2 separate regions of the Homo sapiens genome follow, and region 2 is linked to region 1. The links come from fine-mapping of genetic effects on gene expression. Tissue or cell type: prefrontal cortex. Region 1 holds a variant in brackets; the other region holds the start of a gene. All regions are shown on one strand. Distances are from middle to middle.

Region 1 (8,103 bases):
AGAAGCAGATGGTGAAACTAAAGAAGGGGGTCCTGAGATGCCAGGGAGCACGGAGACGTGCAGCAGATACTCACAAATGAAAGAATTAAATCAGAGTCTCTGCCGTGCTTCGAAAAGATGGCTACAGGCGGGCAGGCCTTTCCATCTACATTTTACAGACGAGCAAGCTGAGGCTAAGAGAGGTCCCACAGTCAAGACAGACAAGGCAGACCACAGACCCGCGCTGGTGCCCACACCCACCTCCTTCCATTCCACACACTCCACAAATGCTTTCTAGTTTTTGAATGACTGTCTACGTCTTTCTCATCACATTGTTGACTATAGTCAATGCCTTGCGATGTTATCATTTATGTGTCCTATTAAAAAGGCGGCATCAGATTTGAAGAGTCTGCAAATGAGCCTGTTTTCACACTTCTTAAAAATGGACAGCACGCTGTTGGGTTGATTCACAGAGGAAATAAACAAGCAAATCACACTAGGTGGGAATTCCACCAGTGAGTGGAACGAGGAACTCTAAGAAATTTTGAACTTGAACTCTAAGAAATCTTAATTTTTCTTCCTATTCTTTAAGAATTCTAGAACTAGGAAAAACCTATAGGGATTTCCATTTTCTCACACCACCAAAAGAGATGGGGAGAAAACAAACAAAATCTGAATTCAGTGAGAGCTCTGCCATTTCATCCAACACTGGAGACCTCTCATCCAGAGCCGCTGTCCAGCAGACAGGTCCCAGGACCCTGCTGAACTGGAGACAGCTGTCTCCATAAGCACAGGCAGCCTCAAAGCTCAGAAGCCAAGAAAGACATGCAGACAGGGACAAGTAGGCTGAGGGCAGCCATCCCTCACCTTCTGTCCCCAGCTCCTCATCCTCGTTGTCTGTGCTGCTCAGCTTCTCAGCATCACTCTCCAAGGCCTCGTTCCTAGCCCCCTTCTCCAAGGGAACCTCGTTGCTCACAAAGTAGGCAGCCAGGCCCAGCTCCTGCTCCAAGGCTGTTCTCACCAAGCAGGAGGAGTTTATCAATCGCAGGTCACAGTACCTCAAAGACCTAGCAAGACACAGAAGAAGGTGTCTGTTTAGTGCCTTCCACAAGTGGAGTGCTGTTCCCACTGCGGCAGGCAGCACTGATCGGGACCACACCCCACCTTCCTGGTGAGGACCCAAGGACTCGTACAAGTGGAAAAGCCAACAGTGTTACTGGGAGCTTGCAGCAACAAATTCAGTATAATAGTAAATCTTTGGGGACACCCACTATGCATTTAGCTCTGTGCTGCACTAACTTTTGGGTCAGATAAAAAAGGGGCTTGCAGCACTTTGGGAGGCCGAGGCGGGCGGATCACAAGGTCAGGAGATCGAGACCATCCTGGCTAACACGGTGAAACCCCGTCTCTACTAAAAATACAAAAAATGAGCCAGGCGTGGTGGCGGGCGCCTGTAGTCCCAGCTACTCGGGAGGCTGAGGCAGGAGAATGGAGTGAACCCGGGAGGCAGAGCTTGCCGTGAGCCGAGATTGTGTCACTGCAATCCAGCCGGGGCGACAGAGCCAGACTCCATCTCAAAACAAAACAAACAACAACAACAACAACAAAAAGGGGGGGCTTGAACCTGAGCTCTGCTACTTCCTAGCGACAGAAGCCGTGACAAGCTGCACAACTTCTCTGAGGCTCTGATTTTTTCATCTGAAAGATGGGAATGAATATTAATAACCATCTGGCTGGGCGTGGTGGCTCACACCTGTAATCCCAGCACTTTGAGAGGCGAAGGCGGGCCGATCACTTGAGGTCAGGAGTTCAAGACCAGCCTAACCAACATGGCAAAACCCCATCTCTACTAAAAATACAAAAATTAGCCGGGTGTGGAGGCAGGTGCCTATAATCCCAGCTCCTCGGGAGGCTGAGGCAGGAGAATCACTTGAACCCAGGAGGCGGAGTCTGCAGTGAGTTGAGATTGCACCACTGCACTCCAGCCTGGGCAACAGAGTGAGACTCCGTCTCAAAAAAAAAAAAAAAAAAATCTAAGTCCGCTGTGATAAAGATTAAATGTAATCAGTGAGCATTTAATTATTCAATCCAAGTGAACACAGGCCAGGGTACTAGATGCTAGAAATATGATGGCAATCAAGTCGGACACCAACAAGCAATGCTATCTGTGAGCAGCAGAGGAAAGGCCAACCCCGTGCTCAGACTTGCGCAGCAGAAACACAACCAAGGCAAAGGGCTTAGAGAGGGGTACGTGAGGGTTCCAGTGGGGCTCTGAAACTTACTGCTCATGACCTCAAGCAAATGATCGTTCATTGACTCAACCATGAAACAGGATGGTAATACTACTGCAGCAAGGAGTAAGTTTCATATGAAAAGTCTATCATGATGCCTGGTACAAAGAAGGTACCAGAAGGTACCTGGTATTCAGCAAATGCTTGCTAAAATTTAAAATAGATTAAGACATTGTCTCAGTCCTTAAGGAGTTGAAGAAGAAAAGAATTAATCCATGTGAAATAGCAACAAGCAAGGTCAAATGTTCTGGAGCCCCCTTCCCCTGGCCCATGAGTATGCAGCATGCACAGGGCCGTTTGCTGAAGTGTGGGGTGCTCCTGGGGGAAGAAGCCAGGCCCACTGCTGGCCAGACTGGCTTAATCTCAGTAAGCCTCAGTTTCTTCATCCGTAAAATGGGACTACTGAAATAGCACCTTTCCCCCAGGATTAAGGTGAGAGTAAAATGAAATAAAACCTAAAAGAAGAATCTAGGACAGTTCCCAGAACATAACAGGAATTCCACTGATGTCGGCTTTTGCTATCTTTTGCTGGCCGTCTGCTCTTCTCCACCGGTATGAAGTCTCTAAAACCCAATCTGTCACTACCAATCCAAGAAACTGCCTTACAGGAGGCCCAGGGACCTGAGTCTCGAGTGTCCGCATGTCTGTGTGGTGGCCTAGAGACCCCCCACACCAGCGGACATCGAGTGGATATGTGGCTAAGACTTTCCAGGCTGTGATGGATTCAGAGGGACACATCTTTTGAGACAGTCCACTCTGTGCTGGAAGAACCAGCTCTTCCCGAGCAGCGTCAGTTGCCTCCACTCCCAGAACGCCTCCTAAGCCGGGAGGGCCCAGGCATTGCGGCAGCCTAGGTACCAGCAGGAACTGTGGCTGCAACTCCTGGAGAGGATGCCGTACTGTCCCAAGCAGAACTGCCATCCCCAGCACACACAGAGCGCCCCATGGGGAGACACTGAACTCAGGAGGCATGAAATCCTGACTCCACCTGCAGAGCCTCCACCCGTAGAGCCTGGCAACAGCCGTCACCACGAGCCCAAACAGCGCCTTTCTGAGAATCAGGAGAAGGGGCACGGGCCTCAGACGCACTCAGGCCCATGCTGGGAAAGCCACGATGAAGGCCCCACCCACGGGGCCTGTGAATGTGAGTGGTGCTGCCTACCGTCAGGGCACAGCAGCCCCCCTGACATGCTCCTTGAGGGGGCCCAGGCAGCCAGCTCCTCAGAGACCCCCAGGGGCATAACCCCTCCACTCACCTCGGCAAGGACTCCCCATGCGGGTCCATCCCACTGAAGATCAGGATGCAAGGCAGACCCTCCAGCTCCAAGTAAGTCTGGGGTCTCCACTCCACATCCTCAATTTTCTGCCACATCTGCAGATAACGAAAAAGAAATAAAGCCACAGACGCCTCCCTTCCCAACCAGCCCAGCTCAGAGGAATCCTGATGGCCTCCCACACCAATTTAAACTCCTTGAACTATATCTTCTGACCAAAAGGAAATTTCTTTAGACTGCAAATAAGCACACCATCCACTTGGCCACCGTATTTTCAGTCGGCTAGAACATGGAGATTAGCCAGCCAGAGCATGTCCAAGACATCTCTATCAGCTGACCAGCTCCGTGAAAGGAAGTCTATGTTGTCAGCTGCTCCTTAAGTCTTTTTTTTTTTTTTTT[G/TTTG]AGACAGAGTCTCGCTGAGTCACCCAGGCTGGAGTGCAGTGGCGCAATCTCAGCTCACTGCAACCTCCACCACCAGGGTTCAAGTGATTCTCCTGCCTCAGCCTCCCGAGTAGCTGGGACTACAGGCGCACGCCACCCCATCTGGCTAATTGTTGTATTTTTAGTAGAGACAGGGTTTCTCCATGCTGGCCAGGCTTATCTCGAACTCCTGACCTCAAGTGATCCGCCCGCCTCGGCCTCCTAAAGTGCTGGGATTACAGGTGTAAGCCACCGCGCCCAACCAGCTGTTCCTTATGTCTTGCCTGTGCTCTCTCCTGACAGTGTCCTCCCTTTCATTCCTGTTTTCCACTCATTTGTTCTTTCCCTAAACCTTTTGCATTTTCTGTCACCTGCAGATTGAGTGAGAACCTACTATGGGCCAGGCGCTGTGCTAGGCTTTGGGGGCTGAGTTCTGTGGGGATGGCCATTGCCCCCCACCATCTGGGAGAGGGGCTAGATGACAGGCAGGGAGCATGGCACTGCCCTGGGCATGGCAGAGGGGGAGGGTGGCTTCCTGAAAGAGGAAAGACACCAACCTAAGTGCTGCAGAAAATAAGCAGGGCAGCTCACACCTGGAACCCAGCACTTTGGGAGGCTGAGGCAGGAGGGTTGCTTGAACTCAGGAGTTTGAGATCAGCCGGGGCAACATGGAGAAAATTTTAAAAATTTTAAAAATTAGCCGAGTGTGGTGGCACACGCTGGTGGTTCCAGCTACTCAGGAGCCTGAGGTGGGAGGATCCCTGGAGCCCAGGAGCTCAAGGCTGCAGTGAGCTGTGATCACGCCACCGCACTCCAGCCTGGGCCACAGAGTGAGACCCTGTCTCAAAGGGGAAAATAAAGAAGCATCAGCTAAACAAAGAAGAGAGGAAATGGATGCCCAGGAAAAAAGAAAGCAGGCTGTTGCCCAGAGGTCTAAAGTCATAAGGCAATGCTGCAGGGGTGTGGGGGTGCTGCTGGGGCGGAGGGCAGAGGTGGGGAAGCACAGAGAGGAGGCTGAGGGGTGGCTGGGTCTAGGGAAGCCACGTTGGCCACGCTGTGGGGTTCGTGACACTCCCTGCCTCTGGTGGGCCCCTCAGCTCTCCCAGGTACCCCCAGGCCCTCCGCCCCTCCCTGCGCACAGCACCTACCCTGAGCTGCTTTACGAAGTGCTTCCCCACGGTGACGCCTGAGCTGGGACTGCCCAGGATGATCTCAAAGTGCTCCTCCAGCGCCAGCCGGGCCCGCACGTGGGCCAGCCGCTCATAGGCCACCACCGCCAGGGGCGAACAGGGCACCCGCAGCAGGACCATGAGCCCGTGGCCGCAGGGGCACTGCTTCGGGGAGTTGAGGAGGTTCTGCGTGATCTCCAGCGTCTCCACCGACGTGTAGTTCTTCATCTGCGGGAGGCCGCTTACGGCCATCAGGGCGGCCGCGTAGTGCTGCACGAGAACAAAGGTCCTGATCACCGCGCTGTGCAGGCGGGGGAACCTGCAAGGAACACAGAGAGACCATGTCTGTGACGGCCGCGCCCACCGGCCTGCTGCTGCCAAGTCACCCAAGACATCCGTCACTCTACCACAGGCAACTCCGGCATTATACGCAGTTGTGTTGCCTCTGGAAGGTGGTTGTGGGAACCTGAATGAGAAGCCTTCTTTAGAAATCAAATTATACAGTCCTTTGTTTTTTCCAGCTGGAAAACAAAAACATAGGTTTGTTGTTATTACGTTTTTCCAGCATTTGGCACTTAGTAGCTGCTCAATAAATATTTGTCCAATGAATGAGCAGATGAATAAATGGTATAAATGCCTATTTTGTCTCTATCAGCACAATGTGCAGCTCTCTGAGGAGGGGACTAAGTTGCCTCTGGTTCCTACTAGAAACAGGAGAACCACCAGCAATCAATATGGAAATGCAGCTACCGGAGGCCCGAGTTCTAAAGGCCCATCTCTGTGTTCACTTCGATCACAGTGAATTATTAGAAATATAACTAAACGTATTTTGACAGACTAATTACAAATCAGAACATATCCAGCCAAATCAAGAATCCCAGTTTTTGCTTCAGAAACTGTGGTTACTATCTGTGTCCCCACACAAAGGTGGTGGCTGCTCCCACAACCACCTGCTCTCCTAGAGTGGCTCTGACCCGTTAGTCACACAGACCCCAGGGCACCAATGGAAAAGCCCAGGTCCCTGTAGATGATGGTGTTTCTCAACGTGAATAAATAAATTGGTATCCAGTTTATGCACAATGTTCTTCTGGGTTGATTGAGCTGGAATGGGTCCTCCTGACTCTGGCTTTTTGTAGCAAAGGTAAGGTAGTTTCTCGACCTACAAAAATGAGTACCATACCGTGGCCATGCCACCCTGTGAGTTCTATCAGGGCAGCCAGCTCGCCTTCCTACAGCACTTGATAGCATTTCTGACATTGCGATGACATCCCTGCTCCTTCTTCCTGACCATCCTCCTCCTTTTCTTCATGTTTCCTTCAGCACTTCATCCACTACGCAGGTCACATAAGCTGGAAGCTGGCCTGGCAAGCTTGCCATTACCAGGGCTGTCTAGGAAGGTATAACTGGTCCACAGACTCTGGCATGAAGGGGACTCAGCAGCCCAGGGACTGCTCTACCTACCCCTGGTGCACCTGTCAAATAATGCCCAGGAAACGGATTGCCTGAGGTCAGGAGTTTGAGGCCACCCTGGCCAACATGATGAAACCCTGCCTCTACTAAAAATACAAAAGTTAGTCAGGCATGGTGGCACACGCCTGTAATCCCAGCTACTTGGGAGGCTGAGGCAGGAGAATCGCTTGAACTCAGGAGATGGAGGTTGTGGCAAGCCAAGATCATGATCACCACTGCACTCCAGCCTGGGCCACAGAGCGAGACTCCATCTCTAAATAAATAAATAAATAAATAAATAAATAAATAAATAAAATAATAATGCCCAGGAAGAAAGAAAGAAAGTGCAGTAGGGAAAATGGGCTCTGCTCAAAGGACAGAGATTTCTGCTTCTGACAAGATGGAGCAACGGGATCAGGTTTATCCTCCCATCTGAAACAGCTGAAAAACTGAACACATAAATGAAACAACTGCATTTCAATACATGGGACATCAGGCAGTGAAAGACAGTGATCCTAACAATGTGAGACAAATTAGGTGAGTCCCCCAGCTTCTGCCTACAGTTTCTGGGATGTACTCAGGAAGAGGGAAGCCAGCCAAAGCTCGGTGGTCTCCCTGAGTTGAGGAGAGGTATCAGATTCCGGGAAAGCCAAGGCAGCTAGAGATCACAGGGCAAAGTACCAAAGAGGAGAGATCTGCAGAGGGTCTCCCTAAAGTCTTCAGTTGATATGAGCAGTGCACATATGTAAGGAAATGACCCAAAGCCAAAACAAGAATCCTTTGGTTGCAAACGAATTAAAGGGAACAATGTCTCAAGTTCATGTAGGGCTGGGAATAGTTCCTGTTTCCACAGCCAATATGGAACACCTCGGAGTCATGAAACATTGTAGAGTACTTACTCAGAGGATTTTGTCTCAGTAATGGGCAAAGTTAGCGCTACATTAAATACTGCTCTGGTCCTGACTAACAAAGTTTAAAACCAAGACCTGGAAGGATTAAACTGTGTGCAAGTAACTTAGTTGTATCACAAAAACACCTCAGTATTTATAGACATACAAATATATCTAGCACCCAACAAGGTAAAATTAACAACGTCTGGTATTCTCTCAAAAATTACCAGACATGTAAATAAGCAGGCAAATATGATCCATAATAAAGGGGGGGAACCAATTGATCAGTAGAAACTGACCTAGGAATGACACAGATGACAGAATTTGCAGACAGCAAAATTAAAACAATTATTGTAACTATATTCTATATGGTTAAAAATCTAGAGGAAAGACTGAACTTGTTGAGTGAAGATATAAAAATCACAAATTAAATTCTAGAGATGAAATCTTCAATGTCGTAGATAGAAAATAAACTAGACCCTGAATTCTCATGGGAGCTATGATCTTTGTATGTGACCTTGCCCTGCCAGCCACAATAGAGTGGTTCAGGTATGGAAACCCAACTCAGGCTGAGCCAGTCTTCTCTTGGGATTTTTCAAACAATAAGAAAGAATAAGTCCCCCTCTGGAATCTA
Region 2 (8,103 bases), 78 kb after region 1:
TATGATATTTATGTAATATATAATATATAAAATATTTTTATATTTTTATATAATATATAAACTTATAACATGTTAAAATAGTATATACTATTTATTATATTTTTAGAGAAGGGAAGAGAGTTTAAGCAGTAGAGTTTTTAAGATGATGGGCTCTGGAGCCAGGTTTGGGTTTGAATCTTCACTTACTGGATATTAGACCTTGAGCAAGTTACTTAACCTTTATGTGCCTCAGTTTCCCCAACTGAAAAATGGGAGAAAAGTACTTGCTTCTTAGAGTTGTGTGGATTTAATAATTAGTATGTATAGGGTGCTTAGCATGGTACCTGGCACATATATAATATTATACATGCCAGGATAATAGTAACAATTCTTACCAATATGAAGCTTGCCACCTGTGAATAAATAAATTAAATGTGTAAAAGGGACTGAAAGAAAATGTCGGCCGGCGCGGTGGCTCACGACTGTTATCCCAGGACTTTGGGAAGCCAAGGCAGGCAAATCACCTGTGGTCAGGAGTTCAATCCCAGCCTAGCCAACATGGTGAAACCCCATGTCTACTAAAAAATGCAAAAATCAGCCAGGCGCGGTGGCGGGTGCCTGTAATCTCAGTTACTTGGGAGGATGAGGCAGGAGAATCTCTTGAACCCAGGAGGAGGAGGTTGCAATGAGCCACAATTCCAACACTGCACTCCAGCCTGGGCGACAAGAGTGAAACTCCATCTCAAAGAAAAATAAAAAAAAAGAAAATATCTATGGTACTTGCCTCTAAGAATTCAAGGTTTTTTAAAACATGCTTCTTTCAACTGTGCTGTAAATTGCTAACTTTTAAAATTGATGTAACTTACTATTATGAGGAGAAAATTAGCAAAGTTTGCCTTCATTAGGTGTGAATTGCAATGACTTTGAACCCACTATGCTTTCTAATTACTGTCAAAAATAGGCTTTTGATGTGAAAATAGCAATGAGGTACCTAAAGAGGAGAGAGCTCACCTCCAGTGTTAACTCCATCTGCTGTGCGGCTCTCTTCTCAGTTTAAATCTGCAATTCTTTGCTTAATGCCAGTATCTCTTCTTGCCATAAATCTCTTTGTTCTATTCTATACATAATGCTCTTCTACCCCTGGCCAAATCCTCTCCACATTAAACATGACAATCATAGCCACAGTTTGGCACTTTTTGGCATTTTTCTCTTTTTGGCCACAATGGCTAGGAGTGATAACTTTCAAAAAGCAGAAAAGTCTCTACCTATCCAACAAAATGCTCTAGAAACTATATAACCACCATTAATAAATAAATATGGCTTGGCTTTTACAAAATGTTTCCCTGAGAGGTTTCCAGATCACTAGAGAAGACAAAGCTTTACTGGGACAAATCATGCGGGGTTGGTGCTGCTGGCACTGCCTGGTTGCTGACTGCCTGGGGCACAAGCAGTGCCTCCGTATCCTGTCACACCTCCGACTCTGCACATGCTGTGTTCCCGCTGCCTCATCCCTCAAGACCCAGTTCAAGCATCTCTTCAATTGTGTGGTGGTTCTGACCTCCCGAAACTGAGCTGGGCATTCTCTTTGTGTCCCCACCACTCCTGTGTATGCTCCAGGCTTGCGGTGGTCTCCCAGGACCATGGTTAATCTGTGTGCTTCCCTCTCTCCCCTGCTGCCTGGGATCCCCAGGAGAGCAGAGAACATGCAGATGTACGCCCTTGGCCAATCACAGTGCCTAGGAAATAGAAGGTATCTGATAAGAGTTTATTTACAAGGTAGTGTTTGCATTTTACAGGGAAAAAAAAAAGAGTTCAGGGCAGCAAGAAGAAAGAAGATGAACAATTCCGACATCCATATCCAGGCAAAATGTAGACAGCCCAGAGATTTCAGAGATTTAGTGGGCACGGTCAGGAAGTGGGGAAGATAAAACAAATCATGTAAGTGGGGCTAATGCAACCTTTTTCTATACTCGTGAAAACCCAAGGACCCAAGCCTTCCCATCTAGTTAAAGACTTTCCTCAGCCTCTCCCCTTGAATCACCGAATCCTAGACTCTCAGACCTAGAAGTAACCAAAGAACTCAATCAATGTATTTCAATCAACACACACCTTATTTCTCTATTATTTATTTATTATTATTTTTTAAGTGTCATCCTGTGTGCCAGGCACTGGAAACTCGAAGAGTAAAGTCCTTTCCTTGTAAAAATGCTGTTTAATGGAAACAGACATTTAGATTATGGTATGAGAATTAACTTCTAATTCAACATGGTACCTGGCCCTTCCTGAGATGACCTTCAAAAGATACTGAATTAAAAATAAATAAATAAATAAATAAATAAGTGGGGTGAGGTATTTTAAGCCACAGTGATGAAAAGATGGAAGGGATGCCATTAGCTAACTAGAGGTTCAGGTTTCATAAACTTCCAGAAGCCAGACTAGAGAGGGAATGTGGAGCTGACACAGGAGAAGGGTGCATACCTGGGGGGACCAACTGGCCCTGAGGAAATGCAGAGACTCAGATACGCCAGACAAGTGTTGGGAGGAGTGCACAGCAGCGCTGGGACCAGGGGTCTTCTGTGAAATCCTGTCTACAGAGCAGGTAGCTCCTCTACCTCCCACCCCAGGGCCACATGCAGATCTCCCAGGAGCCAGGCGTTCACCCCAGGCAAAAAATACCGAAAGCTCTTCTGATACAAATTGAATCAACCAACAAGAACTAGAGCCGCTAACGCACAGTCTGGCATTCAGAGGCCTCCAGAATGCCAGCTGATTCTGTCCTGAGCACCCCAAAAGTGACACCTGCCAGACACCAGCGCCCCCTGTGGACACAACACTCCCAGTCAACCTTCTCTGCCTCACTCTTAAACACACATGAAAATCCAAGGGTCATGTAGCACTTAAGGAAGGAAACATGAAAACAACATCCAGGAGAAGAAACAGAAGAAAAGACACCAAAGCAATCAGAGAACAACCAGGTATATGTGAAGAAGAAGCACACATCCCCCTCTAATTACCATCCTCAGGAAGACTGAGGGCCACACTCTGTTTCCCAACCAACCCAATCACTGAGCCACTCAACAATCACACAAGAGGAGCTCTCACGGGTGAGCCTGTTGATCTGGCTTTACTGCTGAGGGGCCCCCAGGTAAACTGAAGAGCTGTGCAGAAAGGCTGGGGGTATGAAAGCCGCACGCTCCCCACTTCAGCACACAGGGTCAGCAAGAGTTGCAGTGATGTTCCCACATACAGTCAGTTCAGCTATAACGCTTGTTTTGAAACTGCAAATTTGTACGGACAGATTGACATATTACAGAACAATTTGAATACCTTGTGGGTTTTGTGTGTGCCTGGTGATTTCCTCTGCAAGAAACACAAAAGTAAGTTCAGAAAAATGGTGCCCAACTGACCCCAGCTGCTTGAGAATATACAAAAGGCGCACACACACCAGCCTCAAGCACCTACCACCTACCTCCAGTCACCACACGTGTTAAAAGCCATGTCCTTCCACACATGGTGTCAGAACTTTCCATAGGGCTCCAGGTCTCTGTCCTTCTTCCATTTGGCAGGTCCTCAAGAGCTGCAAGCCTTCCATTGAAAAAACTTTATTTCATTTACCTTTGCACTTTGAGGTAAAATCCCATCTCTACTGCAGTATTTATGTATCTCTTAACCATTTAGCATGTGTAAAACGGTGCTGCCCTTTTTATTAGGTTTTTATCTTTTTAAAAAATGTGTCATTGATGAAGTTTTTGAGAGCTGTTGCCCTAAGCCTGTATTCGTCATAAACCCTGCGGTTTTTATTGCCCAATCTTGCATGGTGCAATAATTTTTAGGAACACATATATCAAGTTATAGTAGAATTGATTATGTGTTTACATTTCTGCCTGCAAGCTACAATTTTCTCCTAGGGGAGAACATGGCGGGAGAGCATGGTGTGCAGATTCTAGTTTAGAAAATATGGTCCACACAACTGAATTTCACACCAGTCACCCCTAGTTCATTGTTTCTGGCTACCCCAAAACGTTCATCACCGGCTTGCCTTTCTCCCTGCACTAAGCTAGAATCTCAAAGAACCAATTGTTGGGTTTTGTTGGTAGCAATCTGTGTATCATCCATTTTTTCCTCCATCAAACACAAAATTAAATTCAAGCATAAATAATGAAATTGTTGTTCCCGGCTTCTGTTTACAGAGTCTCAGGGACGCTGTGGAGCTGGGTGTGCCTGGGTCCAGTCCCTGCCCCCTCACCCACCGGAGCTGTGTGACCTTGGACAGCCTCCCTCACTCCCTGAGCTCCAGTTTCCTCAGCCATAAACAGAGATAACAGTGCTGACTTCAAAGCTGACTTTGTGAGGATTAAATGAGATAATGTAGTAGAGTATTTAGTACTGTGGCTGGCACTTCAGTGTTTTCCCATTTATCTGTTTTTTTCAAGATGAGTGATCTCTTTGCTGATCATAAACATATTCCTCCATCTGTCTTGTGTTATTCGCCTGCATTGAAATCCCATCCCAATCCCCGTCTCTATTTGAAAGTGGAGCTTAAAAATTGCAAAAATGAATAATTGGGATGTGCAAAACCTCTTAACTTGTAGCACCAAGTTTTTTGTCTCATGTTGATCAGTCTCTCTCTTCTTGCATTTCTCTCCCATTAGTTTGGAGTTGCCATTCATTCCTTCATTTATTCATTCACTCAACAAACATTTATGGGTGCCTGGTATCTACTGGCTATGTGACTGACTTAACTTCCCAGAGCCTCAGTTTTCTTGGCAAAATGAAGATAATAATACCTCTATCATAAGGTTGTTGGAAGGCTTTCCATGACACCAGGACCGTAAAGCACCTTTTACACCGTCTGCCATATGGCAGGTGCTCAACAAAGGATATCTTTAAGCAGTATCATCACGATGACAATGGACAAGCCATATCCCTAACAGGGCTTAAACCTGGATAACAAGAACACTGTTTCCACTGCGCTAGTGGGGACAAGCACACACATCGCTGGGAAGATCTGCAAGCCTCCCTCCTCCCACAGACCCAAACATGCTGCTGCAAATGTCTCACTGGCTACAAAACAATGAGTCTGATTACGACCCACAGAAATGAAAAGGCAGCAAACTTGTTTAGGTATGATTCATCATTGTCTGCTGCGGCAATCAGAAGTATTTTGGTTGCTTCTAGGTCAGAATGACCCAGTTGCCACACTTTTTTTCACTGCTAAAGTTCGTAATGAACCTTTAAACAAAAACTAAAGGCGTAAGGAAAGATAACTACTTTGTGGCTTTTGCTCAAAGTGAGGACGTTATCAGCTCTGCCCTTCAGAAGCAAGCCCTGATCAAGGAAACCATTCACACTTGATTTTCTTTATTTTATTGGCCACAATTGAACATAGGTATAATTTTCATGAACCTCCCTCGCTCCAAGACCAGAGCTCCTAGGAAGTTGTCTTTCCCATCTGTTTCCCGGCCCCTACCAGAAATAAGTGCCATGAGAGTGTTGACTGATGAAGGGCTCCTATACGCGGGTTGATTTTCAAGCAGTTAAGAAGCAAGAATTAATGACTCGAATATATGATCTTTGCTAAACTCTTCAGGAATAAATGAACATTTCCCACTTTATTCTTGCTAATGTTGACTCCTTAGCAAAGATAATTTCAACATATTTAATATGGCATATTCAAATGACAGAAAGTACGAAACAATAGTAGAAAGCAGAGAAAAGTATATATAAAGAGAGAAAGCGGTATCATTCACATCTTTAACACCTAATCTAATTGTAATTTTCTTAAATGCATAGAAAAAAGACTGGGAGGAAATACACTAAAATGTTAACAGTGGGTATTTTAAAACAAGAATTAGGCGAGGTGCGGTGGTTCATGCGGTAATCCCAGCACTTTGGGAGGCCGAGACGGGTGGATCACTTCAGGTCAGGAGATCAAGACCAGCCCGGCCAACAGGGCGAAACCCTGTCCCTACTAAAAATACAAAAATTAGCTGGTCATGGTGGCAGGTGCCTATAATCCCAGCTACTTGGGAGGCTGATGCAGGAGAATCGCTTGAACCCGAGATGCCAAGGTTGCAGTGAGCCAAGATGGTGCCACTGTACTCCAGCCTGGATGACAGAGCAAGACTCTATCTCAAAATAATAATAATAATTAATTAATTAATTAAATGTTTAAAAATAAAATAAAAGCAAGAATTATACGCAATTTTTTTTTCTTGTTTCTAATCATCTGTATTTTCTAAATTTTTTACAAATGATCACATGCATTTTTTATAAACAGCTTTTTTGGGGTAAATTATAATCATGAAATTCCGTCAAGCTTGAATCTCTCTGTAGGCTGCACAACGTGGAACAGATGAAAGGAACCAAATGCTGGAGTCGCACCAACCTGGCTCTGCCTATCTCCAGCAGGCAAGTCACTTAACCTCTATACAATTAGTGGTCTGAACTAAACCAGCTCCTTGGCAGCCTAGGCTCTAGCTCAACATCTGCTTGTATGCGTCAAGCAACTACACTCCCACAGTAAACTGGGAACCTACTGGGAGCTAAATAGAAGCAAATATCCCCAGGCCTGGGTGACACTGACTGAGCTGACCTCCAGTACAGGGCCTGAGGCCACTCAGGAAGCAGCCAGGGCACCTGCCCACACCCTCCAAACAGGCCCACCTACCTAGGGAACTCTTTCTCCCTGGCACTAGGCTAGTTTTGGGGGGGTTAATGGAGTTATGGACTGGGATGGGCAGCCTTGTACAAAGGGCTTCTCTGGCCAGAGAGAGCCGGTGTCTGCTCCGCAAACACCAAACTTCCCCACCCTTCCTGGCCAGCCTCAGATCCTATTTCCCCCACACAGCCTTCCCACATTGGCCAACCCTCACTCTAACCCCTTTTTAAAAATTGTGTGTATTAAACTTAAGTAGATACAAAAGAATATTGGTATGTATGTTGCACAGACTCATGATATGATGAACACCATGCACCACATGCAGGTTCTGGTGAAGGTGCACTTCATCATCGTCTTTGAAGTCCCCTTCTTGTCCTCCATCCCTGCCCCCCATTAACTCACATCCTGAATTTTATGTTTATTTTTCCCTTGCTCTTCATGATTTTAACAACATGATGGATTTAATTGTAACTTAATTTTTTTTTTTTTTTTTTTTTGAGACCGAGTCTCGCTCTGTCCTCAGGCTGGAGAGCAGTGGTGCAATCTCAGCTCACTGCAACCTCCGCCTCCCGGTTCAAGCGATTCCCCTGCCTCAGCCTCCTGGTAACTTAACTTTTAACCTAAATTTTAACATAGATTTTACTTTTTTTTTTTTTCCTATTTGGCAAAGATCAACTTTAGTGTGCATAAGAATCACCTAGGGCCGGGCGCACTGGATCACACCTGTAATCCCAACACTTTGGGAGGCCAAAGTGGGTGGATCACTTGAGGCCAGGAGTTGGAGACCAGCCTGGGCAACCTGGTGAAACCCCATCTCTACAAAAAGTGCAAAAATTAGCTGGGTGTGGTGGCTTGCACCTGTAGTCCCAGCTACTAGGGAGGCTGAGGTGGGAGAATAGTTTGAGCCCAGGAGGTTGAGATTGCAGTGAGCCAAGATGGTGCCCCTGTCCTCCATCCAGCCTAGACAACAGAGTGAGACTCTGTCTCAGAAAAAAATAAAATAAAATAAAATAAAATAAAAAATCACCTAGGGGTCTTATTAAAATGCAGATTCTATTTCAGTACCTCTGGGCTACAGCCTCCAAATTTAGCATTTCTGACAAGCCAATTTAACTTAATTTTCATTTAACTTTTAAACTAAGAAACATATTGTTTCATTTTACATTTAGTTTTGTTTAGTTTTACATTTCTCAACTGTGTATGAATGGGCTCATGCTGTATGAATTTTCTAAGACTTGCTTTTCTGCCTCATACAATGTTCCTGAAGTTCATCCACAATGTTGCCTGTACCTGTGAGTCATTCACATTCAATGCTGTATAGTATTTTATGATATAAATATACCACTTTCTCTTCCCAATCTACATGTTATGTCTATTTGAGGTATTTCTAGCATTTGTGTGTCAGGAGGGTACACACATAACTTGTATCAATCAACATTACTATTTGTCTCCTGTTACACACA

Alleles and levels. Alleles are on the strand shown, and positions count from the first base shown. SD is a standard deviation of normalised expression in the study named.
With allele G in place of TTTG in region 1, the expression in prefrontal cortex of the gene that starts at base 3,658 in region 2 is lower (moderate effect, 0.56 SD a copy in ROSMAP).

The links. PIP is the estimated chance that this variant, and not a neighbour inherited with it, causes the effect.
Region 2: it holds the start of GREB1, and the variant in region 1 is fine-mapped to the expression of GREB1 in prefrontal cortex (CommonMind, PIP 0.95).

The regions. Positions count from the first base shown.
Region 1 is chr2:11,608,034-11,616,136 of GRCh38, reverse strand. GREB1 (growth regulating estrogen receptor binding 1) reads right to left here. Exons shown (of 33, transcript NM_014668.4): 18 at 5,110-5,449; 19 at 3,527-3,642; 20 at 847-1,046. Among named protein-coding and RNA genes, the nearest start is that of NTSR2, 58 kb to the left of the region's middle. The variant G/TTTG (reference allele first, on the strand shown) is at 3,944.
Region 2 is chr2:11,529,600-11,537,702 of GRCh38, reverse strand. It overlaps GREB1 (growth regulating estrogen receptor binding 1), which reads right to left and starts at 3,658. Exons shown (of 33, transcript NM_014668.4): 1 at 3,449-3,658.